Homo sapiens: one gene and its partners. The protein of the gene in region 7 purifies or fractionates together with the protein of the main gene of each other region. This does not show direct contact. Each region holds a gene or a part of one and is shown on either strand. Other genes may lie near its edges.

What was found.
Region 1: the proteins of NOL7 (region 7) and UTP4 purify together in Homo sapiens (co-immunoprecipitation; 3 studies listed by BioGRID and IntAct, with this or other methods). This does not show direct contact.
Region 2: the proteins of NOL7 (region 7) and RRP1B purify together in Homo sapiens (co-immunoprecipitation; one large-scale study listed by IntAct). This does not show direct contact.
Region 3: the proteins of NOL7 (region 7) and GNA11 purify together in Homo sapiens (affinity purification with mass spectrometry; one large-scale study listed by BioGRID and IntAct). This does not show direct contact.
Region 4: the proteins of NOL7 (region 7) and CEP120 purify together in Homo sapiens (affinity purification with mass spectrometry; 2 studies listed by BioGRID and IntAct, with this or other methods). This does not show direct contact.
Region 5: the proteins of NOL7 (region 7) and UTP15 purify together in Homo sapiens (co-immunoprecipitation; 3 studies listed by BioGRID and IntAct, with this or other methods). This does not show direct contact.
Region 6: the proteins of NOL7 (region 7) and C1orf174 purify together in Homo sapiens (co-immunoprecipitation; one large-scale study listed by IntAct). This does not show direct contact.

Annotation. Positions count from the first base shown.
Region 1 is NC_000016.10:69,149,649-69,153,148, forward strand, and holds part of UTP4 (U3 small nucleolar RNA-associated protein 4 homolog), read left to right. Parts: intron 1-888; coding exon 889-1,060; intron 1,061-1,164; coding exon 1,165-1,256; intron 1,257-3,500. UniProt on the Homo sapiens protein: Ribosome biogenesis factor. Involved in nucleolar processing of pre-18S ribosomal RNA. Part of the small subunit (SSU) processome, first precursor of the small eukaryotic ribosomal subunit.
Region 2 is NC_000021.9:43,669,560-43,673,059, forward strand, and holds part of RRP1B (ribosomal RNA processing protein 1 homolog B), read left to right. Parts: intron 1-324; coding exon 325-407; intron 408-2,748; coding exon 2,749-2,806; intron 2,807-3,500. UniProt on the Homo sapiens protein: Positively regulates DNA damage-induced apoptosis by acting as a transcriptional coactivator of proapoptotic target genes of the transcriptional activator E2F1.
Region 3 is NC_000019.10:3,097,362-3,100,861, reverse strand, and holds part of GNA11 (guanine nucleotide-binding protein subunit alpha-11), read right to left. Parts: intron 1-3,500. UniProt on the Homo sapiens protein: Guanine nucleotide-binding proteins (G proteins) function as transducers downstream of G protein-coupled receptors (GPCRs) in numerous signaling cascades.
Region 4 is NC_000005.10:123,416,904-123,420,403, reverse strand, and holds part of CEP120 (centrosomal protein of 120 kDa), read left to right. Parts: intron 1-1,888; coding exon 1,889-2,045; intron 2,046-3,500. UniProt on the Homo sapiens protein: Plays a role in the microtubule-dependent coupling of the nucleus and the centrosome.
Region 5 is NC_000005.10:73,575,743-73,579,242, forward strand, and holds part of UTP15 (U3 small nucleolar RNA-associated protein 15 homolog), read left to right. Parts: intron 1-1,209; coding exon 1,210-1,294; intron 1,295-2,113; coding exon 2,114-2,263; intron 2,264-3,008; coding exon 3,009-3,110; intron 3,111-3,274; coding exon 3,275-3,408; intron 3,409-3,500. UniProt on the Homo sapiens protein: Ribosome biogenesis factor. Involved in nucleolar processing of pre-18S ribosomal RNA. Required for optimal pre-ribosomal RNA transcription by RNA polymerase I.
Region 6 is NC_000001.11:3,890,273-3,893,772, reverse strand, and holds part of C1orf174 (UPF0688 protein C1orf174), read left to right. Parts: intron 1-776; coding exon 777-890; exon of another isoform or gene 891-1,024; coding exon of another isoform or gene 1,025-1,032; intron 1,033-1,993; coding exon of another isoform or gene 1,994-2,147; intron 2,148-2,715; coding exon 2,716-3,204; intron 3,205-3,500.
Region 7 is NC_000006.12:13,618,335-13,622,212, forward strand, and holds the end of NOL7 (U3 small nucleolar RNA-associated protein NOL7), read left to right. Parts: intron 1-1,873; coding exon 1,874-1,995; intron 1,996-2,073; coding exon 2,074-2,151; intron 2,152-2,419; coding exon 2,420-2,493; 3' UTR 2,494-3,378; downstream 3,379-3,878.

The DNA of each region.
Region 1 (3,500 bases), on a different chromosome or scaffold from region 7:
CCTGAGTAGCTGGGACTACAGGTTTGTGCTGCTCTGCCCACCTTGTTTATTTAAGAAACTTTTTTATTGGTGTTTCTTGCATTTTTTTTTCTTTTTTTAAGCCAGAGTCTCGCCCTGTTGCCCAGGCTGGAGTGCAGTGGTGCGATCTTGGCGTACTGCAACCTCTGCCTCCCAGGTTCAAGTGATTCTCGTGCCTCAGCCGTCCAAATAGTTGGGATTACAGGCATGCGCCACCACGCCCAGCTAATTTTTGTATTTTTAGTAGCGACGGGGTTCACCATGTTGGCCAGGCTGGTCTCAAACTCCTGGCCTCAAGTGATCCACCCAGCTCAGCTTCTCAAAGTGCTGGGATTATAGGAGTGAGCCACCATGCCTGGCTGATGTTTCTTGGATATTTTTAATGAAATAAACGTTATTAAGAAACACCTGTTCTAGTTCCAAATAAAGGATTTTCAGTATTTTTATTGGTTTAATACATTTCTTTAGTGATAATAACTTGATCATGTTAAATATTCGTATTAAATAACATGATATGAATTTCTTTGTTAGGTTTTCTCTTATGTTCTTTCGAAGGATTTAAATTTCTCAAGTAGGTCCTAGGTATTTTCTCTCTCTCAATGCTATTCTAAGGAGATCTATGTTGGGTATATGAAGCGTTGCTGTACTGTAGACGTTAATTTTGTCAGTAGGGGGCGCATTGTTACCAGTGTCTGAGCTTGCTCCTTTGATGGAATCCTTAGCTTCTGGAAGGAAAAGACCCTTGTAACTTTCCTACTGATTCTGGGCATAGGTTTACCCCTAAGCTGCTGAGACAGAAAGCCTCGGAATATTTTTCCAACCAGACCTTGTTTTGCTTACGTGTACCTCCCTCATGATTTAATTCCTCAGCAAGAAGACAGTTTCGTGGTGGGCACAGCCGAGGGAACAGTCTTCCATTTTCAGCTGGTCCCTGTGACATCTAACAGCAGTGAGAAGCAGTGGGTGCGGACAAAACCGTTCCAGCATCACACTCATGACGTGCGCACTGTGGCCCACAGCCCAACAGCGCTGATATCTGGAGGTGGGTTCCCCCTCTGGTGAGGCTGCTGCTTTACCCTGCCCAGTTCTGGCTGTTCTCGTGAGGATGACTTCTAATTCTGTACACCTTCTCCCCTGCTTTCCCAGGCACTGACACCCACTTAGTCTTTCGTCCTCTCATGGAGAAGGTGGAAGTAAAGAATTACGATGCCGCTCTCCGAAAAATCACCTTTCCCCACGTAAGTGTCCATTCCAAGCCCCTGCTAACCCCTCATCTCCCCATCCCTGTGTCCCCCTGTCCCACAAGCTCTGAACACAGCTCACGCTCGGCAAATTTGTAGGACTTTTTTTTTTTTTTTGAGACAGAGTTTGCTCTTGTTGCCCAGGCTGGAGTGCAATGGCGCGATCTCGGCTCACCACAACCTCCACCTCCCGGGTTCAAGCGATTCTCCTGCCTCAGCCTCCCGAGTAGCTGGGATTACAGGCATGCGCCACCGCGCTCAGCTAATTTTATATCTTTAGTAGAGACTGGGTTTTTCCATGTTGGTCAGGCTGATCTCGGAACTCCCAACCTCAGGTGATCTGCCCGCCTCAGCCTCCCAAAGTGCTGGTATTACAAGTGTGAGCCACCACGCTCAGCTTTGTGGTCCTTTTTTTTTCTTTTTTTTTTTTTTTGAGACTGAGTCTCTCTCTGTCGCCCAGGCTGGAGTGCAGTGGTGCGACTCCACTCACTGCAAGCTCCGCCTCCCAGGTTCATGCCATTCTCCTGCCTCAGCCTTCCGAGTGGCTGGGACTACAGGTGCCCACCACCACGCCCGGCTAATTTTTTTATTTTTAGTAGAGGTGGGGTTTCACTGTGTTAACCAGGATGGTCTTGATCTCCTGACTTCGTGATACGCCCGCCTCGGCCTCCCAAAGTGCTGGGCTTACAGGCGTGAGCCACTGTGCCCAGCCCCTGCCTTTTTTTTTTTTTTAACCATCTGGGACATGGAGATATTGTAGGACTTTCTGTAGCTACCTTCTTCATTCCTTCTGTTTTTGAGGCAAGCCACTGCAAAGACATTTATGGGGGCAGGAGATATGCAGCAGCACACCTAGTTCAGTTTCTGGGGAAATTTTTCCCTTTTCCAAATAGTTGTGGGTTATGGGAATTTTGTTAGTTTGTCTTTCAGGGTAGGCTCTATTCTGGGTGGGAGCGGGAAAACCCAGGCTTCCAGTGTTCTAGGTAAATGGTACCATCTTCCCAAGCTAGAAAACTTGCTCCCCACACCTGCTGCCCCATTCATTCAAGCAGTAAACCTCATTGAGTCTACTCATCAGTATCTTTATACATATGTTATAGATATAGATAGATAGATAGATAGATCAACAGCTCTATTGAGGCATACTTGATATATTAAAAATCATACATATTTAATGCATATGGTTTGATGAGGTTGAACATAGTCCTCATAATCTCTTGAATCGAGTCATTCATTTCTCTTTGTCTACGCTGGCATCATCCTAGTTTGGATCAGTGTCTTTTCTCATCTGGGTTCCTTTACAGTAGCTTCTTAATCATGTCCTTTTATTTGCATTTGTGTCATTCTAGCCTATTCTTCATTGATCTTATTTTATTTTATTTGTTTTTGTTTTTTTGAGACAAGGTCTTGCTCCGTCACCCAGGCTGCACTGCAGTGGTGTAATCTTGGCTCACTGTAACCTCTGCTTCTTGAGCTCAAGCAGTCCTCCCACATCAGCCTCCCGAGTTGCTGGAGCTGCAGGCATGCGCCACCAGGCTCAGCTAATTTCTGTTTTTCTTTTTTTTTTTTTTTTTTTTTTGAGACAGAGCTTTGCTCTTGTTGCCCAGGCTGGAGTGTAGTAGTGAAATCTCGGCTCACTGCAACCTCAGTCTCCTGGGTTCAAGCGATTCTCCTGCCTCAGCCTCCCTAGTAGCTGGGATTACAGGCACCCGCCACCACGCCTAGGTAATTTTTTTTGTATTTTTAGTAGAGACAGGGTTTCACCATGTTGGCCAGGCTGGTCTTGAACTCCTGACCTCAGGTGATCCACCTGCCTTGGCCTCCCAAAGTGCTGGGATTACAGGCATGAGCCACTGTGCCCGGCCTCGGCTAATTTTTTTATTTTTTATTTTTTTTAATAGAGGCAAGATCTCACTATCTTGCCCAGGCCAGTCTCAAACTCCTGGTCTCAAGCAATCCTCGCACCTCAGCCTCTCGATTGCTGGCATTACAGGCATGAGCCACTGCTCCAGGCCCATTGATCTGTTTTAAAGCACCTTTGTTCATCACTCCATGCTTCAAAGCCTCTGGTTATCCCTGTTGGCTTCAGCATAAAGACAGTTTCCTTAGTGTGTCTTATAGAACCTGTCTCCATCCAGGCCTGGCCCTTCAGCTTCTTTTTGCACCTCTCGTGCTTGTAGCACCCCCACCCAGGCTAGCCATTCTCAAGGTCTTTTTGTTCCCTCAAATACTCTTACCTTT
Region 2 (3,500 bases), on a different chromosome or scaffold from region 7:
ACGTGGTGGGCGGGGAGGGCGTTGATGAGGAGCCGATTTCATAAGTGGCCACTTTGTTCATGAATTTTGTGTTGTGATGACATTTGCTTCCTCACGCTGAGGCCGGGCCACCACTGCCACCCTACCCTGTAGCTGATAAAGCTGCAGGTACAGTAGTAATTTATTTGTGTTTCTTTTATAACAATAAGGAAATGTTTGCTTCAATTTTTTAAAAAGACGTGCAAACGAAAGAGAATTAAAATGTATGTGATACTTCACCACTTTCTAAACTTGAAGAAAAGAGATGCATAGACTCTAAGATGTTTGTATTGTTTTGCCTTCCAGGAGGTTTCAGTCAGGAAGAACTTCTGAAAATCTGGAAGGGGCTCTTCTACTGCATGTGGGTGCAGGATGAACCCCTTCTACAGGTAACATGCGTTCCCTTTGTCATGCTCCCGGGTTCTTGCTGTGGATGGATAAGAGACTTGATCACTCATGCTGTGCCAGTCCCCCGATACACTGACGCACACTGACAGTCATGCTTCAAGGAGTCATTTTCGTACCTCTTGTCCATACAGAAAGGGATGCAGGGTCAACACAGTTAGGTGAATTGTCTTTTCAAATAAAAGGAAAGATGTGCATTCGTTGTCAATTTACTATTTCTCTGTAAAATTTCATAGGTTCCATGCTAGGTTTTACATTACTTAAAGTTTCTCTCTTCTGGTAAGTTTATTTTTTGTGGTCAAGGATGGCATGACAGGAGCACTAACTAGTCAAGACCCTGTGAAACCCAGGAGAGGGCAGCCGCGTCACTGGGCTTCGGGTTCCATGGAGAGCAGCAGTAGCGCTCAGCGAAAGCCTCCCTGTTAAAGCCGAGTGCGCCTGCGCAGTCACCCAAACGCGCAGCAGGCTCGGTCTCTCTGTGCGGGGCCTGCTGAGCCCGCTAAGCCCACCACCAAAGCCAACACTAAAGATGTGACTTTCACTTTTTAAAAGCTTTGTTCTGACCCATGAAAGTAGATCCGATCTGCCTCTGTAGAGGGAGAGCAGGCTTGTCCAACCCACAGCCACATGTGGCCCAGGATGGCTTTGAATGCAGCCCAACACAAATTCGGAAACTTTCTTAGGACCTTATGAGATTTTTTTTTTTAAGCTCTTCACTATTACTAGTGTTAGTGTATACTGTGTGTGGCCCAAGACAGTTCTTCCAGTGTGACCCAGGGAAGGCAAAAGACTGGACACCCCTGAGGTAGAGGAACCAGCCTTGAGAAGTGCTTGCAAGTCTCTGATGCAGATGACAGGTCCTCAGGGCAAGATTTTACTTTTCTGGGTTTTAATGTGCAGCCTTGCCACTTCTCCCGTGCTGCGTAATAACTTGTTTTAATTTATTTTTATTTTACTGAACATATTTTGAGTAGGAGCAGGGCAAAATATTTTTATATTACATTCAAAAGTAACAACCAACAGCTTTAGTGGAGGAAGAAAACCAATGGACAGAAATCTCATTTTCCCACGAAGGAAAACAGACCGGGTGTGGTGTGAGTCAGACTGATGAGGAGTGTGCTTTTCTCACGGAACCTCAGAAGAGAGGGCGTCTCCCCAGAGTGAGCCTGCTGCACCTCAGCAGGGCATGCTCTCTCAGGGACCCCTTCACCCAGGACAGAGCCCAGAAGGCTGAGTTTACCTTCACATTCCACCTTGTCTCTGAGCAAGCTGTAGGGAGGACTTTCCCATGGCGTGCAGTGAGCATCCCCAGCATCTCACCTCTGTGAGGTCTGCCCTGCTGTCTTTGTGTTTCACATCATTTCTGGGATTATGATGAAGTTTTCTTTTTTTTTTTTTTTTTTTACAGAGTTTCACTCTGTTGCCCAGGCTGAAGTGCAGGGGTGCCATCATGGCTCACTACAGCCCCAACCTCCCTATTGCTCAGCTGATCCTCCTGCCTCAGCCACCCGAGTAGCTGGGACTACAGGTGCACGCCTCCATGCCTGGCTAATTTTTGTATTTTTTGTAGGGACTGGGTCTCATTGTGTTGCCTAGGCTGGCGTTGAACTCCTGGACTCGAGCGATCCACCCGCCTCGGCCTCCCAAAGTGCTCGGGCTCCCATTACAGGCATGAGCTGCCCAGCCCAGCTTAGATGGGGGTTTTTTGGTTGTTGTTGTTGTTTTGAGATGGAGTCTAGCTCTGTCACCCAGGCTGGAGTGCAATGGCATGATCTTGGCTCACTGCACCCTCTACCTCCGAGTTCAAGCAATTCTGTCTCAGCCTCTCGAGTAGCTGGAACTACAGGCACACGCCACCACGCCTGACTAATTTTTGAATTTTTAGTAGAGATGTGGGGAGTGCCATCTTGGTCAGGCTGGTCTTGAACTCCTGACCTCAGGTGATCCACCTGCCTCGGCCTCCCAAAGTGCTAGGATTACAGGCATGAGCCACTGCACGTGGCCAGATATAGTTATAAAGCCAGGAACTGATAACTAATTTATTTCATCTCTAGTTCATCTGAACTGATAATTAGAGATGCTTTTTTAAACATGTAGCTTAACACAGTTCTTGCAGACATACCAAGTTAGCATAATAGTCCGTCAATATTGGAACTTACACATTTGATAAAATTCAGATATTCGGATACATACTTCTTAGTGGAAGTGACAAGAGGGGCAGACCTTCCCACGAGCGGAAGTGGGAGAAGGAAGCAGGCCGCGGCACAGGCATCTCATGTTGCCCCACGATAACCCCCATGTTTCTCCCCAACCCCGCCTCTGCAGGAAGAGCTCGCCAACACCATTGCACAGCTAGTCCATGCTGTTAACAACTCAGCGGCTCGTAAGTCCTGTTGTTTCTTCTCCTTCCTTCCAAGTTTTCCGACTTGCTAGTTTAATGGGAACCTTGTGCCGGTATTGTGTAGATGTCAGGGGACAAGCCATTCCTGTTTTTAAAAGCTGTGATAAACTTAGTCATTGACTTGGTGAGAGGGCACAGTGTCTTGGGGAGAATCAATTTGACATCTCAAAGATTTCAGAAAATGCTTTTAGAAATAACAATCCTCCAGAATCTTCAAATTCTGAGTTACTTTAACACTTGGAGCCTGGAGAGCCAGATGCAGGGTCCACGGTGACCTCTGGATGCCAGGTTCGTCTTCCCCAAGAGCAGAGCCGTCACTGGTAATAAATACATAGAAGACACCACCGGTCACAGACTATGAAGTAACTCCTCTCAACCATAGAGAAAAAAAATTAGTTAGGGTGCTTCTGTGTCAGGCGTTGATTGCTTATAAAGGAAGAAAAAGGTAGCCGACTTCGTTTGTTCTGCTTAATGCTCTTCAGAAAAGCATCCTAATGATTTCAACCACCCCCAGTGGTGCTCTGAATATTAGCTGACTCATATTGAACAAAATTCTACATATGATGTATAATAGATTTACAAAGATGAAAAAAGAATTGTGCAAAAAGAAATAAAGCCAAAAAATCAACAAAAATTGTTTTTGAATAAAAAAGTGCTAGTTCTGTGGGTCAGAAGA
Region 3 (3,500 bases), on a different chromosome or scaffold from region 7:
CACTGGCCTCAGCTCATTTAATCCTTCCACAATCCTACAGGGGGAGGGACAGCCTTCCCACGTGACCGATGGGGAAACTGAGGCCGGGAGAGGGAAGTGACTCGCCCCTGGCTCCCTCCAGAGTGTGCCCCCACTGCCCCGTGCTGGCCAGCCCAGGGCAGCCCAGGCCACAGGCAGGACTCAGAAAGAAGCTTCTGAGAGCCAGCTGCGCACTGTCCCCGGAGACCCCTTCTGCCCAGTGCACAGGCCCACAGGCAGGTGGCAACCGAGCCTGCCCCAGCAGAGACCCCTGGCGTGCACCAGACCAGCCTGCAGGGCATTGGGGAGGTGTCGGGCCACTCCTCTCCACTTCCCTGCGTGATCTGCCTTCAGTCAGCCAATGACGGTCACTCGCCAAGCATCTCTGAGACCTGCACAGCTCAATGACATGGGCAGGGAAGCAGGGGACCAAGGACACGCAGCTGACGATGGCGACGAGAAGGGAAGGGGGCTGCTAAGACACACGGGTCAGGGGTCCTGCTCCCAGGGACACTAGGCGATGTCTGGGGACTTCTGTGGTTGTCACAACTTGGGGGTGCTCCTGGTCTGGTGTGGGTGGAGGCCAGGGACGCTGCTCAGTACCCTGCAGTGCCCAAGACAGCTCCACCCCAGAGAACGATCCAGTGTAAAACACCCACGGAGCCGAGGCTGGGGAATCCTGATCAAGGTGTCTGTGGGCAGATCCCAGATCCCAGATCCCAGGGCAGGATCCCCCATGGAGCAGTTTCTCAGAGCACCCAATGTGTGCCACACACGCCAGGTGCTGTGGACGCGACAAGATATCACCACACCGGCAGCGGAAGCAGCAGCCAGCATTCCGTGGGTCCCCACGTGCGGCAGGATGGGGATCACCACCGAGTCCTCACCCCACCGCCCCCTGAGGAAACTGAGGCACAGACCTGAAGTCCCACAGTTACAAGAGGCAGAGGTAGGCTCTGAACCTGAGTCTCCCCAGGCCACGTACCTGATCCGGACACCACACTGCTCCCAGGCCCTGCAGGTGGCCCGAAGACCCACCCACCAGTGCTGTCCTGAAAGCGCCTGTCGGCAGACTGCGGGAGGCCAGGCTGGACCAGGAACCCCCACAGCAGAGACCATCGGAGGCTTCTGACCCAGAGGCAGGGAGTGGGGATGGAGGGTGGGAGACTGGACCACAGACATCTTGATGGCAGGGGAGGGATGTGGCCAGGCCCAGATGACAGCGAGAGTCTGGATCCAGGGCAGCCAATTCTAAGACCTGCCAGGTGCCCTACAGATGACAGACATGGTGGGAGGCCCCCCGGGCGGGATGCTCCACACAGGGCCTGGCGGCAGGAGCTACATGCACCTGCAACCACCTGCACGCCAGCAAACCGGCACTTAGGATCCCGGTTCTGCGAAAGGACTTAATTTCTGCCAGATAATGACCCTGCACGTGGGCCTTCCCAGAGCCCCTGGCCGCCCCTAATCGCATCCACCGCTCTCAGTCACCCAGGTGGGCAAGCCATACAAGGCTTCCCATCCTCCACGCACAAGCTGGGGTGCCCAGTGGGGAGAACACAGCCCTGCTGGGGACCCAGAAGGGGCGCTGGGTCCCAGCTGTCTACAGGGTAGGGCCGAGCAGGCCCCGCGAGCGCCCCTCTAAGATCCGTCCGACTCCACCACACACCTCTCCAACCTCCTGATGCCACGGCGTCCTCCCCGTGCTGCCCAGGGTCCAGGTCCCAGACAGAGACAGGCTCCACCACAAGACTCAGAAAGTGAAACCTCTCGTGGTTAAATCTCGGAGGAAAGCACTTCCTCCACTCTCACTACAGCACCGGCAGAGCCGGGCAGGAGGCTCGGGAGGAAGCTCCACGGAGCTCACAGCTGTGGAACGGAGCTTCCCGGACCATGCCCGGGAAAAGCAGACCCTTTCAGCCACAATCATCATAACTGATTACATGTAAACACAAAGGACGTGAGAGCAGGCCCGGACCAAGTCCCCACGTCTCCCTGGCCTGGGCTCGGGCTTGGGAAGTCAAGGTTGGACGAGGCCATCCAAGGGCGCTTCCTGCTCCCAGAGTCTTCTGGGACACGGCACAGCCACCCTGCCAGGCGCCAGAGGCCACGCTCCACGCCTCCCAACACTGGGCCAACAGAGGCCCGGCCCTTCCCGTGGGGCCACCGCACCCCATGCTGGATCCCGGGCCTTGTCACTGCCCCGTGGGGGCTGGCGCAGGCCGGACAGGAAGCCTCCGGAACTAACCATCCTGCTTTATTTAGAAAGCCTGGAGCCACTCCGGCTCAGCCTCGCTAGCAGCCTCAGGCCCTGGGAACAGGCATTCCCATGGAAGTCCCCACGTTTCCAACCACAAACCTGCCACAAAGAACTATACGGGGGTCCCCTCCACAGTTTACCAGTGAGACGGAAACCTAACAGCCGAGGGCTGCCCGTGATAGGCAGAAGCCCAGCGGGCCTGGGGAATGGGAACCCAGATCCAAGAGCTGCTGGCAGGGCCTGCAAGAGCTCTCCAGGCCACAGGGCGGACCCCAGGATGGCGGCGGCGCGGACGGAGGCGGGAGCAGCGTGTGCACTAAGTGCGCAGTACGTGCTTGCCACTCCTGTACCCATCCACAGCTGTCACCAGCATCGACAGAAGTGTGCATAGGGACAAACCTGGAATACCACGGGTATAAAACAATACATGCATTCACATTCATGCATACACTGAGTAGTGAATTCACACACACACGGCTTTGACGGTGCTTAGAAAAATACTCTATAAGCACTCATGGAAACTTCTGACAAAATAATTTGCACTCATTATCCCTCAGCTTTGCCACGAGCATTTTACGTTGTACGCTACCACACAGTAAAGGGTCTCAAATGGGGGCAACGTGCCCCCCAAGGGACAATGGGCACTGTCTAGAGACATCTGTGGTTATCACGACTTGGGGGAGCTCCTGGCATGGAGTGGGTGGAGGCCTCGGACACTGCTCAGCACCCTGCAGTGCCCAGGGCAGCCCCACCCCAGAGACCAACCCGGACCAATGTGCACAGGGCCCCGGGGAGACCTGTTGTACGTAACGGAGAGGCCCATCTGAGGCGTGAACAGCACATTTTAGCCGCCGCGGGAGAGGCGGCACGGCAGCCGGAGCCCCGTCCAGCTCTAGGGCTCCGTAAGGTCCCCCCCACCCCGAAAACGGGGCACGGAATGTCCTCGCCAGGCTGACCGACCTCACAGGCCGTGTGCAGCCCCAGGGAGGCAGTGGATGAGAGCGAGCAGACGCGGCGTTCTTCCAGAACATGCTCCACCTGGTTGCAAACCCAGGAGTCAGGGCAGGGCCCTGGAGCCCTGCTGCCCCAGAGCCTGGAAGAAACCAGCACCACCCACATAAACGAGACCCTCCTGGGCCCCAGATGCCACAGGGGTGTGGTGGCAGGCCCCTGCCTCCCTCCCCGACATCCACTCCACAACGCTGTACGGGAGCCATGGGGG
Region 4 (3,500 bases), on a different chromosome or scaffold from region 7:
AAGCTTTTACCATGAACAAAATTTGGGCTATGTACTAGATTCCAAGGATGAAAAAGACCATTTCTGTTATCTCTGTATCATTGTCTGCAGCAAGGCAGGCATCTGTTTGTTCCCTTCACATCCTCTGTTCTCAAGCTTGTTGGAAGCTGCTAGTTATAATAATATGGAAAATATAGGTTCTTTGACATATATGACATTCATTTGGGGAAGCTAGGTATCTTTTGGAGCAGCAGAAAATGAGGTCCTGAGATGGGCCTCTGTTAATGCTAATTGGGAGAGCTGTGCGATGTGTGTTAATACTCCTAATACAGAGTTTCAATGAGAGCCTCAGGCTTTAACTCACAAGGTTAGCAGTCAAGGTCTTTTTAACAGCTTAATTCCTACACTTCCCCCACAAGTAGCTTGTACCAGGGTGAGTAGCAGCAGGGATTTCTTCATTAATCAATGGATAAAATTCCCCTCAATAAGATCCACCTTAACAGATTTATAAACAAGAGAACTAGTTGACTCAGTGCAAGATTCTTAGTGCTTCTTCGTTGATGTTCTTTAGCTTCCTATTTTCAGTTTTTTTTGGTTTGTTTCTCTTAACTAGATCCTCAGTTTTTTTAGAGCAAGTACTCTGTTTTACTCATTTTGTACCCCACCATCTGATAAAATACCTGACTCTGAATATGTCTTCAGTAAACATTGATGAAATGGGGTTTGGCAGTACAAATGAAAAGTGATGTGTAGATAGAATATTTGAATATTTCCTGATAGTGTACAGTGTTGTCCTTGAGAATAGAATGAAGGAATCCATGTGGCTATTTTTCTTTAGCTAATTTGGAAAGTATTCTGTTTTTTTTTTTTTGTTTTTGTTTTTGTTTTTTTTTGAGATGGAGTCTTGCTCTGTTGCCCAGGCTGGAGTGCAGTGCTCACTGCCACCTCTGCCTCCCGGGTTCAAGCTGTTCTGCCTCAGCCTCCCGAGTAGCTGGGACTACAGGCGCATGCCACCACACCCGGCTAATTTTTTGCATTTTTAGTAGAGACGGGGTTTCACCAGGAAAGTATTCTTAACTGAGTTAACAGAAAAATTAAGCTGCAGGCAAATTTGTTTTTACTAATTTATTTCCCAGCTCTTCAGATGACTGTTCTCTATTAAGTAGTGCAATAGTAGTACCTAAAATTCGTGTAATCACATTAAGTGTTTAATTCCAGATGTTGTTGAGATCATTCCTACTCAAAGTGTGGACCAAGGACAGCAGCATTCACATCACCTTGGATCTTGTTAGAAATGCGGAATCTTAGGCCCACCCTAAATCTACTGAGTCAAAATCTACATTTTAACAGGGTCCCTAGGTGATTCATGTGCACACTAATGTTTGAGAAGCACACATTTATAAATTATAGCTTTCCATTTGATTCATGTTTCTTATGAATTATGGAAGTGAGTGTATATGTGAGCCTGCATTAGTGAGGTAGCTTATGGAATGCATGTCAACCACACTTAACAGATCATTAGTTTTAAAAAAACACATGCTAGGCTGGGCATGGTGGCTCATGCCTGTAATCCCAGCACTTTGGGAGGCCGAGGCAGGTAGATCACCTGAAGTCAGGAGTTCCAACATGGCAAAACCCTGTCTCTACTAAAAATACAAAAATTAGCTGGGTTTGGTGGTGTGCACCTGTAATCCCAGCTACTTGGGAGGCTCAGGTAGGAGAATCGCGTGAACCTGGGAGGCGGAGGTTGCAGTGAGCTGAGATTGCGCTACTGAACTCCAGCCTAAGCAACAGAGTAAGACTCCATCTCAAAAAAAAAAAAAAACCAGCCAAACAAAAAAACACATGGTAAATGATCCTGTTTGATTTTTGTACACTTTTGATTAATCTATATATTCTGTTTCTCCAGGTCGGCATTTCCCCAAACGTCCAAAGCATATGCTTGTAGTGGAAGCAAAGTTTGATGGAGAACAGTTGGCTACTGATCCTGTGGACCACACTGACCAGCCAGAATTTGCTACTGAGTTAGCTTGGGAAATTGACAGGAAAGCGCTTCATCAGCACAGGTGATTATCATTTTCATTTTAGCTTCTTTATTGGTTTCTTATTTTTCAGGCTGTTATAAATAAATACAGTTTGAGTATTTAATACTTGGGACCAGAAGTATTTTCGGATTTTTGGAATATCTGCATAATCAAAGATACCTTGGGGATGGGACCCAAGTCTAAACATGAAATTTATTTGTTTTACATTATACGCATAGTCAAAGGTAGTTTTATATAATATTTTAAATAAATTTTCATAAAATGAAGTATGTTAAATGCTTGTGTGTGGAATTTTCCGTTTGTGGCATTATGTCAGCACTCAAAGTTTTAGAATTTGGAGCATTTCAAATTAGGAATGTTCAACCTATAAATTTTGTATCTGTCATTACGTTTAATAATTATAGTTATTGAGTGTTTTTTTAAATGTGACAGGAAATTTTTAAAGTACTTTGCAACAATAACAGTTAAACATCAGAACAACACTATGAAGTTGTTATTTTTATTTCGCCCATATTATAGATGAGGAAACCGAGGCCTGAGATGTTAAGTATTAGTAACTTGTTTTAAGTCTGTTAGCTTAGTAGTGGTAGAGCCCAGGCAATCCAGCTTCAGAGCCTAAGCTTTTACACTACACTTACACTGAGCTGTTTGGGTTTTTTTTTTTTCCTAATGTGTGAGACAGTAGATATTCTAGAAATACCTTGATGATACCTACTCATTATTAAATATGGTTGGAATTCCTTGTAATTTCTGTTAATTTATTTATTGTATATTTACCTGGCTTGCCAAGGATATATAGAGGGGTATCCAGTGAAAAGTTATGAAAGTAATTCTATCAAGGTTTCTTTCTAATTAATTTATATTTAATTTTAAACAAAACCACTTTATTAGTATATAAAATAGACTTAAAGTTATAGTATATATTTTTTGTGAACTCTGACTAGAAGCAGGCAACAACAATAAAAGCAATACTCTTATTTATTTAAGGATTAAAAATATATTTTCTTCTGGAAAACATGTTATCACTTTAATACTTGCTTGTTCTCAGTACTAAATTAAATCAAAATGGAAAGTTAAAAAAAAGGAAAGCAAGGAAAACTCTATTTACCTCTGTTGCTAGAGTAGTCCATGGATTTATTTGAAGAAGTATTGCATTCTTAGAGAATATCAATGTTGGATTTCCTTTCAGTGGTGTCTATAATGGAGTCCTGCTATGAGCTGTTAGGGCTTCCATTTTGTTAGTGCCAGGTTAGTACCACTCTGATTGTTGTAGGCTGAGAAAATACAGATAAATTGAATTTATAAGTGATGATTTTGTGCTAAGTGCAGTTCTATAATAACTCCACTAGATAAAAGCAGTGGCAAAATCCATTCAGCTTAATGCATGAGCCAGTTGAGGGGTTCCGAACTAAAACAGCCCATGCTAAACAAGCCAATATCATTCTTTCAGAACACTGTTATGTGTTATATTATTAA
Region 5 (3,500 bases), on a different chromosome or scaffold from region 7:
ATGGAGTTTCACTCTTGTTGCCCAGGCTGGAGTGCAATGGCGCGGTCTCGGCTCACCGCACCTTCTGCCTCCTGGGTTCATGTGATTCTCCTGCTTCAGCTCCCAAGTAGCCGAGATTACAGGCATGTGCCACCATGCCCGGCTGATTTTGTATTTTTAGTAGAGACAGGGTTTCTCCATGTTGGTCAGGCTGCTCTTTAACTCCCGACCTCAGGTGATCTGCCCACCTCGGCCTCCAAAAGTGCTGGGATTACTACAGGTGTGAGCCACCGCACCCGGCTAATACCTTTTCTTTACTCCCAAGTTTGATCTTCAGATGACAGTGGCTCATGGTCTGTCCTTCTGTTTTTTTTTTTTCCTTTTTTTCTTTTTAAATTTTTGAAACAGAGTCTTACTCTGTGGCCCAGGCTGGAGGGCAGTGGCACGATTTCGGCTCACTGCAACCTCTGCCTCCCAGGTTGAAGCAATTCTCATGCCTCAGCCTCCTGAGTAGCTGGGATTACAGGTGTGTGTCACCACACCTGGCTAGTTTTTATTATTTTTGGTAGACATCGGGTTATGCCGTGTTGGCCAGGCTGGTCTTGAACTCCTGGCCTCAAGTGATCTGCCCACCTTGGCCTCCCGAAGTGCTGGGATTACAGACCTGAGCCACCACACCCGGCCCTTCTATTTTTTTTATAAGTGGCTAGTCAAAGTTTTTATACGGATGTTATAGTTAGGGCTGGTATACAGCTCTTTTTTTTTTTTTTTAGACAGAGCTTTGCTCTTGTCGCCCAGGCTGGAGTGCAGTGGCACAATCTTGGCTCACTGCAGCCTCCACCTCCCAGGTTCAAGCAATTCTCCTGCCTCAGCTTCCCAAGTAGCTGGGATTACAGGCATGTGCCACCACGCCCAGCTATTTTGTATTTTTAGTAGAGATGGAGTTTCACCATGTTGGTCAGGCTGGTCTCGAACTCCTGACCTCAGGTGATTCACCCACCTTGGCCTCCCAAAGTGCTTGAATTACAGGTGTGAGCCACCGTGTCCGGCCTACAGCTCATTTTTTAAGGGATTCAGTGATGAATTAGTTTGTAATTAACATTACTAATCTTTGTTTTTCTTCACTGTTGTACAGATTTTAATGTTTGTATTTTGTTTTCAGAAAATAGAAATTTGCATTTTATACTCGTTTTCAAGGTGATTTTTGACAAAGCTTTTCCTTTTTATTAGGAAGGTGAAAGTATACAGCACAACTTCCTACAAAGTAGTCCACAGTTTTGATTATGCAGCTTCAATTTTGAGTCTTGCCCTTGCAGTAAGTACCTTTACCTATTTTTAAGTCTGTCACTAACCCTGCCTGTTAAATGAAACTAAAATGGAACTTTGGGCTTTATTTTTAGATTTGAGTAACTTTTCTTGCCACATCAGATATTTGAGTTAAGACAATTGCTGGAATATGTAACTCGTCCTATTGACTCAGCATGAATTCAGATTTAGGTCCCACTCACTGTAGAACTTCAAACTAAATACAGTGCTCTAGGCATTGTTAACATTAAACGCAGGACCTGGGAAGCTGGTAAATCTCTCTTCAACTCATTTAACTCAAGAGTATTATAGTACACTAGAAAGGCAGATTAGCTCTCTGAGCAGAAAAAAAGATGTGGGGAGAAGGGGACAACAAAATGAAATATCTCCTTTTCTTTGTTACTGCTCTTTCTGAAATGTATACTGTCAAGTTTTATGAGAAGCCACATTTGGGCAGGAAGGCATTTGACTATATTATATAGAAATCTGATTTGGGAGAGGAAAAGCTTATTAAAAATATTTTTGGGGGGCAAGATCATAAAAGTCTTGCTACTGTGTAATCTTTGATGCCGTTAACTATGTATTATACAAACTTTGCCAGTGATATTTTACAAGTATAAGTTCTGTCAATGTAGTTGTATCCTAAGGAAAAAATGATTTCGCTTTAACGTCTTGCACCAATCATCGTTAGGCAGACTATGTGTATTTGAATGGAACTGTTGGTGAATGTATGGACAAGCAGCAAACACATGGTAAATGTGTTTTGAAGTAAAAGTACTATAAATTACGAGTTAAGAATAGACTAACTTATTTTTCTAATTGTTATTAGCATGAAGATGAGACAATAGTTGTAGGAATGACCAATGGAATACTGAGTGTTAAACATCGGAAATCTGAAGCAAAGAAGGAATCACTTCCCAGAAGAAGAAGGCCTGCATATCGAACCTTTATTAAAGGAAAAAATTACATGAAGCAACGGGTATTTGTGCATTTCTCATATTTGTTTAAAGGGTGAAATTTGTTAGAGTAGCCAGCTTCATCCCTGCACATTACTGGAAAGCGTAGTTCACATGGCACTTTATTTTGCTTTTCTCTACATCAGAATTATTTCTAGATTGCTAGATTGGGGACATTATTGATGAGTAATGGGGAACAAGGACTACTTTATGTAATACTCTGCATCATAACATAATGTTATAATGCTTTACTGCATTCAAAATAATGTCTTTCACATACTACCTGATTTGATCTAAATCCCAAGAAGTAGTAGAACCAATCATGTCCCTGTTTGGCACCTGAGAAGACTGAGCGACAAATAATTTGTGATTGATTCAGGATTTCATTACTGGTATCCAGAGTTGTTGAGACTAGATCTCATTATCTCTGATTGTTGTTTGATTTCTCTTTCTACTGTACCACACTGCCTGCCACATAAAGAGAATTGAAATGAGTAATTTTTACCTAGAATTAAGGCAATGGTGCATGTTGTAAGTTAAAATTATAAGAGAGTAAGAACATGTTGATGTAGCAAGTTACTCCTTTTTTTTTTTCTTTTTTTGACTCTGATTAGCAGGATGCATTTTTATTTAATCTACATTATGGGCATATGAACATTATTTGTGACATAGTTCAGAGATACCACTTCATTATGAAAAAGTTTATATTAAATGTATATTTACACAGATGCTGATTTTCCTTCTCTATAAATGTACTTTTCATTGCAGGATGACATTTTGATTAACAGGCCAGCAAAGAAGCACCTAGAATTGTATGACAGGGATCTGAAACATTTTCGGATCTCTAAGGCACTCGATAGAGTTCTTGATGTGAGTGAGCATTTTTTAAAAAATCATGTTATTACTTACCCTGCATATTACCATGACTTGGAACTGTGAAGATAAATATTATTCAAACTTGATAATTTAGTGCAAGACAGTGATTTTTTTTGTGCTGTTTTGTCTACTCATGTTGACTTTGAAAATTTTTCTAGCCCACTTGTACAATAAAGACACCCGAGATTACGGTGTCCATCATAAAGGAGTTAAATCGAAGAGGAGTCCTTGCAAATGCGCTTGCAGGTCGGGATGAGAAGGAAATCAGTCATGTTCTTAATTTTTTGATAAGGTATGTTTTTTGTCTGTGAAACACTTACATTTTGCATCTGAAATCCTTTATCACCAAATAAAAGACATTTAGTTTGATCTTTGTAGAGAACT
Region 6 (3,500 bases), on a different chromosome or scaffold from region 7:
GGTGCACACCACCACACCTGGCTAATTTTTAAAAAAATTTTTTAAAGATGGGCTTTCGCTGTATTGCCCAGGCTGGTCTTGAACTCCTGGGCTCGAGCGATCCTCCTACCTCAGCTTCCCAAGTAGCTGGGATTACAGGTGTGAGCTATCACACCAGTTTCTTTGTACTATTTTTTGCAACTTTCTGAATGCCGAAAATTATTCCTAAATAGTTATTTTAAATGTTATGTCTTTAATTAATTTCTTTCTTGTTATTAGAGGAGTTTGCTTTGCATTCAGGATAAAAGAGAGGTGGACCAGTTTGTTAATATTAAAATTTGTGAGACAGTCGCTAGCTGCATTCAGCTAATAGAATAGGAGTCTAATTTGAGGAAGAGAAACTTTGGTTTCCTCATGTTACCTTTTTTTAAAAACTTTGACAACGTATGAAAGTTGGAGAGCCTTCTAAGGAAGGGCATGTGCTGCTTATTCTAAACACTTTGAAGTTGACTTAATTTCCACTAAAGGACAAATGGTGGCTACTAGAAATATACAAGATAAGGGGGACAGATCGTCCCAAGCCTCCAAAATCGTGGAAATAGTAGATCCTGTATCCTAAATCCAGGCACAGTTTCATTTGGATTTACACATTCGGGCCACAGCTGTCTCCACAAAGATGATAAAATCCTGGGAGTGGGAGGGGCGGTCTTCGGGTGTTCTTTAGGTGGGAAATTCTCGTCTACATGTTCATGCTGCCTTCCTGAGAGCACTCTCTGAGTGGCTCTCAATCTCTCTAGCTCACAGGTGCAGTGCGGTCTTCAGCGCGCTTGAAAGCACGAAGTTGTTCGGCAGCCAGGTTGGCCTCTGCCCAGGAAGTTGCTGGTTCCACGTCTGCCAAGACAGCATGTCTGGTGAGCCCTGTTACCGTGGAGAACGCCAAGATCCTGACTCGAGGGTCCATTTTTATACAAAATTGCCACTCCAAGATGTGTTGCTTTAGAAAAATATCGACTGTTACTTATCTGCCAGAGGGGGACTATTGCAGATGAAAAGGTGACAGCACTGTAATTGCCTTCAGAGAAAGACACACTCTGCAGGCCAGGGCTGGCTCTCCTAGCACCCGCCCACCCGTGTGTGTGTCTAGACCCGGGCTCTGATCCTAGCACCCGCCCACCCGTGTGTGTGTCTAGACCCGGGCCCTGATCCTAGCACCCGCCCACCCGTGTGTGTGTCTAGACCCGGGCCCTGATCCTAGCACCCTCCCACCCGTGTGTGTGTCTAGACCCGGGCCCTGATCCTAGCACCCTCCCACCCGTGTGTGTGTCTAGACCCGGGCCCTGATCCTAGCACCCGCCCACCCGTGTGTGTGTCTAGACCCGGGCCCTGATCCTAGCACCCGCCCACCCGTGTGTGTGTCTAGACCCGGGCCCTGATCCTAGCACCCGCCCACCCGTGTGTGTGTCTAGACCCGGGCCCTGATCCTAGCACCCGCCCACCCGTGTGTGTGTCTAGACCCGGGCCCTGATCCTAGCACCCGCCCACCCGTGTGTGTGTCTAGACCCGGGCCCTGATCCTAGCACCCGCCCACCCGTGTGTGTGTCTAGACCCGGGCCCTGATCCTAGCACCCGCCCACCCGTGTGTGTGTCTAGACCCGGGCCCTGATCCTAGCACCCGCCCACCCGTGTGTGTGTCTAGACCCGGGCCCTGATCCTAGCACCCGCCCACCCGTGTGTGTGTCTAGACCCGGGCCCTGATCCTAGCACCCGCCCACCCGTGTGTGTGTCTAGACCCGGGCCCTGATCCTAGCACCCGCCCACCCGTGTGTGTGTCTAGACCCGGGCTCTGATCCTAGCACCCGCCCACCCGTGTGTGTGTCTAGACCCGGGCCCTGATCCTAGCACCCTCCCACCCGTGTGTGTGTCTAGACCCGGGCTCTGATCCTAGCACCTGCCCACCCGTGTGTGTGTCTAAACCAGGCTCTGAGGCCACTTGTGCTCATCGCTCTGCTCTTAGCGTGCTATGGAGTCATGCTGGCCCATTGCCGTGCAGCCTCACCGCCAGAGGCTTGAAGAGAAAGGCAGAGTGGGTGGGGAAAGGAATCTCATGCCGTCTGCCGTTCACCCTAGCCCAGCCATCGATTCCGAGGAGCGAGTTCCTGAACTTACCGGTGAAGTAGAGCCGCTTCACGGAGCCTACAGTTGAGGGGTTAGGACTTGGCCATATGCCAGCGTGTAGCACAGAGCTTTGCTCATGATGAGGTGCTTGGTAAAATTTTGTCGAAGTCAATTTCACAAATATTTCTTGAGCACCTACTGTGTGCCAGGCACTAATTGGTGAATAAAGCAAAGACCCCTGCCTTCACAGAGCTTATGCCCTAGCAGAAATGAATGAAAGCTGGATTCTTTTACTGTAATTGTATAATATATAAATATATGCTTCAGAATTCACCTGAGGAGCTGTAACGCCACTAGGGGAAACTGAAAGTGTAGGAGTGGTGTGGAGCTGTAACGCCACTAGGGAAAACTGAAAGTGTAGGAGTGGTGTGGGGTGTGTCTAGATTCAGTCTCGCTTGTATTTTGTCCCTTGGTGGCAAAACAGTGAAATGACGATCTGTGAAAGTTGTGGTCACAGCATCTTTATCATTTCCGATGTGAGAAGAAATACTAGCCTCTGGATTGAGGCCTGTTTTATTTGCTAGATATGTCTGGTTCCCCTTACATTTTTTTTCTTGACAGACTTCCTCATCCCACAAAGCCACAGACACGCGAACGTCCAAGAAGTTCAAATGTGACAAAGGACATCTTGTGAAGTCAGAATTACAGAAGCTTGTCCCTAAGAATGACAGCGCTTCTTTGCCAAAAGTGACACCTGAGACCCCTTGTGAAAATGAGTTTGCTGAAGGCAGTGCCTTGCTTCCAGGCAGCGAGGCTGGCGTTTCTGTGCAGCAGGGGGCTGCAAGTCTTCCTCTCGGTGGCTGCAGAGTTGTGAGTGACTCTCGCTTAGCAAAGACTAGAGATGGCCTGTCCGTGCCAAAACACAGTGCCGGGTCCGGAGCAGAAGAATCCAACAGCAGCTCCACTGTGCAGAAGCAGAATGAGCCAGGGCTACAGACAGAGGATGTGCAGAAGCCACCACTTCAGATGGACAACAGCGTCTTTCTAGATGACGACAGCAATCAGCCAATGCCCGTGAGCCGGTTCTTTGGAAACGTTGAGCTCATGCAGGTAAGAGCGGCGCCTTCCTCCTCCCGTGGGTACTCAGGCAGCAGCTGCACATTCAGGTCACACACTCCCCACTCAGTGCAGGTAAATAATGCCTCGACACAACATTAAACATAAACTAATCATTTTAACCCACGAGGAGAAAATGAAACCGTTGGCTAATTGGGGGCTCTCCCTGCATCTCCCGAGCTGAGAATCACTGCTCTCGGGAAAGGTGTGTTTCCATGAAATCAGGTTTGTGGTTTTTTTGAACATCCACCCCGCGCTTGCTGTTAATTTCTTTTGTTTTGAACCCAGCA
Region 7 (3,878 bases):
CTTCCCGGGTTCACGCCATTCTCCTGCCTCAGCCTCCCGAGTAGCTGGGACTACAGGCGCCCGCCACCGCGCCCGGCTAATTTTTTGTATTTTTAGTAGAGACGGGGTTTCACCTTGTTAGCCAGGATGGTCTCGATCTCCTGACCTCATGATCCACCCGCCTCGGCCTCCCAAAGTGCTGGGATTACAGGCGTGAGCCACCGCGCCCGGCCGGGAAAATATTTTAATTAGTAGTAATTTCAGATTGTCGTCTCTGTGGAAAAACCAATTTTGGGCCGGGCATGTTTGCTTACACTTGTAATCCCAGCGTTTTGGGAGGCTGAAGCAGGTGGATTGCTTGAGTCCAGAATTTCAAGACCAGCCTAGGCAACATGGTAAAACCCAGTCTCTACACAAAATAAAAAAAGTAAGCTGGGCGTGCTGGTGTGCACCTGTATTCCCAGCTACTCCAGAGGCCAAGGTGGGAGGATCACTTGAGCCCAGGAGGTCGAGGCTGCAGTGAGGCGAGATTGTGCCACTGCACTACAGCCTGAGCGACAGAGTGAGACCCTGTCTCAAAAAAAAAATCGGTTTTCATAAAAAAATAAAGATCAGTTGAACACTTTGTCTTTGCAGGTCCTGCAGGTTAAGTTCAAAAACTTTTTTTTAGTGGTTTTATTATTGAGAAAATTTCATTTCACCTCTCCCAATAGATAGATGTTTATTTCAAGATACACTGCAGCCTACTGTCAGCACTTCAAACTTGCCAGCCTACTCTTATTCAGGCAGTTTAATTTTTCTGGCTGCTGAATGTTCCTCCAGTCACCAGCCCTTATGGTGCATGGTGCTGATGCAAAGACAGTCATTCCAATGGAAAGGTTGTTCACCACTATTGCCAGTCATGGCAATTCTTCAAAAGGAGTCATTTTTCACAAAATTCAACCTTTCCCTGACAATATGGCCTTATCTTCTATTCTTATGGTCTACAGAAGTCACAGAGAAAGTGCCTATTGCTGTTACTGGAATTTTGGCCGATACTGTGGACGATGTCTGTAGTATCTGTCTTGAAGTCCACAGGCATTCATTTGAGTTGCATTCAGTACAGCTTGGTGGTCCAAATCATTACTTGCAAATCGGTGTTTTAGCCACAAGATCAAATATAGAAACAAATGTAAAGCAAAGTGCAAGACCATGAGAGGAATTCATCACAGTATGTTGGACTTTTCATTTGGAAAAACTTATTTGGCACAATCGATTTGGAAATCATGCTGTCAATTCTCTTTTACTACATGTATCCGAACAATTTCCTGTTAACTAATGTTTTGACTTTTGGTTTTAGTATATTTTAGTACAAAAGTCCAGGAACAAGTTCTTCAGTTGGATCTATCTGAGATGCTGATTGTTCAACTGATGAACAAAACCACCATGTGCTCTACTAAAATATGAGTGTCTGTTTCTTGTAGTCCTTGTAATTTAGTTTTATCCTATCTGTGCATATATAAAATTAGTTTCATTTATCACTATGAGACAAATGATAAAAATATTTTAAAGTAAGCATGTAGCCTGGGCACGGTGGCTCATGCCTGTAATCCCAGCACTTTGGGAGGCCGAGGCTGGTGGATCACAAGGTCAGGAGTTCGAGACCAGCCTGGCCAACATGGTGAAACCCCGTCTCTACTGAAAATAAAAAAATTAGCTGGGCATGGTGGCAGGCACCTGTAATCCCACTATTCAGGAGGCTGAGGCAGGCAAGTTGCTTGAACCTGGGAGGCAGAAGTTGCAGTGAGCTGAGATCGCGCAGCCTGGGTGACAGAGCGAGACTCTGTCTCAGGAAGAAAAAAAAAAGAAAGTAAGCATGTGTAATTCTTATTTAACCTTTTATATTGATCAACAGCCAGAATAAAAGCTACTTGGCCGTAAGGCTAAAAGACCAAGATCTGAGAGATTCAAGGCAACAAGCAGCACAAGCCTTCATACATAATTCATTATATGGGCCAGGAACCAACAGGACTACTGGTAATTTTTTTATGGACTATTTTTCTCACTTTTTACTGCAAATAAAACTGTGAAATGATAAATACCTTTCTTTTCTAGTAAATAAGTTCCTGTCTCTTGCCAACAAGAGGTTACCAGTGAAAAGAGCTGCTGTCCAGTTTTTGAATAATGCTTGGGGTAAGATCCAGCTTTATTCTCCTGTCTCTAATAGCTTTATATGTTGAATAATGTTCTTTTGAAGGAGATAGTTCATAATTATACTTTTCCCCCTTATAATGGCTTATATATTAAGTTACTTGTGAAAAACAGGTCAATGTAGTATGTATATACATCTAAAGTATAATAAGCCCACCCAGTTTTAGTAATTACATTCATATAGAGTAATTAAAAAAATTTTGAATTATGTTTTTCTAATATACTTACTGCAGAAAACTTTATATTCTAGGAATCCAAAAAAAACAAAATGCCAAGAGGTTTAAAAGACGGTGGATGGTCAGAAAGATGAAAACTAAGAAGTAAATCAATGCTAAATGAAGAATCTGTACTTTGTATGTATAGAATTTATCTAATAAATCATTCATAGATCATTTTAAAGGATCATTATAAAAATCATAAACCTATTTGAGGAAGTGCTCAACCACATTTCATTCTTCTGGAGTAGAACTGTGCCTTGCAATCCTAGAGGAAAAAGTGGTTTAAGAAGGAATTGTTTTCTTTTTAATATATTTAACTGAATTCAAGCCATACCCACATCAGCAACAGCACCTCTTCTACTCTCCCCGGGTTAGAGGGGTGGCAAAAATGGCACGGACTAAAAGGAGAAATGGATATTCCAGCAAAGTCTCTAACTGCAGCCTGTAGACAATTTGCTATTAAAGATTCAGTGCACAAAATATAGCTAACAGCTTTTAAATTTTTACTTTTAACCAGTCTGGGGATTTGCTTGCCTGGTGAGTCTCATATGCCATATTATGAATATGAAAATAATGAAGTTAATTTCCTGTTGCCTTTCTGTGTCAGCCACAATATCAGGTCTAACCCTAATCCAGGGATGCCAGTAAACTGAAGGCAATTTTAGGTTGTAGAACTCAGATTAATTGTAGAAACCATTAATTTTAATTGCTCTAATTTTCATAGTAATCATAAAAAGTATGCAAGTACCTAATATATAAACTCAATTGACACTGTATCTGTAGAAGTAAATTTTTAATGGCTGGTTAATTATATCACTACATTTTATTGCAATATAGTACTCATTTAAGCACTTAAAAATGGAAGGTGTACAAAGATTAAATTAAGACACGGTAAATTGACTAAATATTTGGTTTTTATATAAATAAAGGTCATAACCACACCGTTGACATGTAATACTGTTATAATACAACAGTTAAACTTGTGAGTCTACAACAGAAGTCATCTGTAGTTAAACAGGAAACAAAGTTGAAAAAGACCATGTTAAAACAAAACTACTGGGACTAACAGGTCGGGATTGTAAGTAGCAACAAACATATTCACTCAGCTCCTGAGTATTTCAAGTTTTACAGTACACATTAAAAATGATTTCTTCCATCAACACTATAAATTCAAACTGTCGGATGTTTATGCATTTTGCAAGTTACACTGATTGAATGCTTATATGGGAGTGGGGGTCGGAACATCTCCCAATTTGAAGTTTACATCACCCACATGCTAACACAAACACAACTTGTTCCATTTCCTTCCCCTCTCTCCCCCCTCCCCCACAAAGAAGGCAGGATTTTTGGTTTCTTTTAGGTAATTGTTTTAAAGGATTTGTGATGATCAATTTGAACGTCTGAAATTCAGTAATATTTAACTCTTAGACAACTAAGAGGTTAAAGATGGAAAATAATTTCTCCTAACACTAAGTTAGAAAATCATTTGCA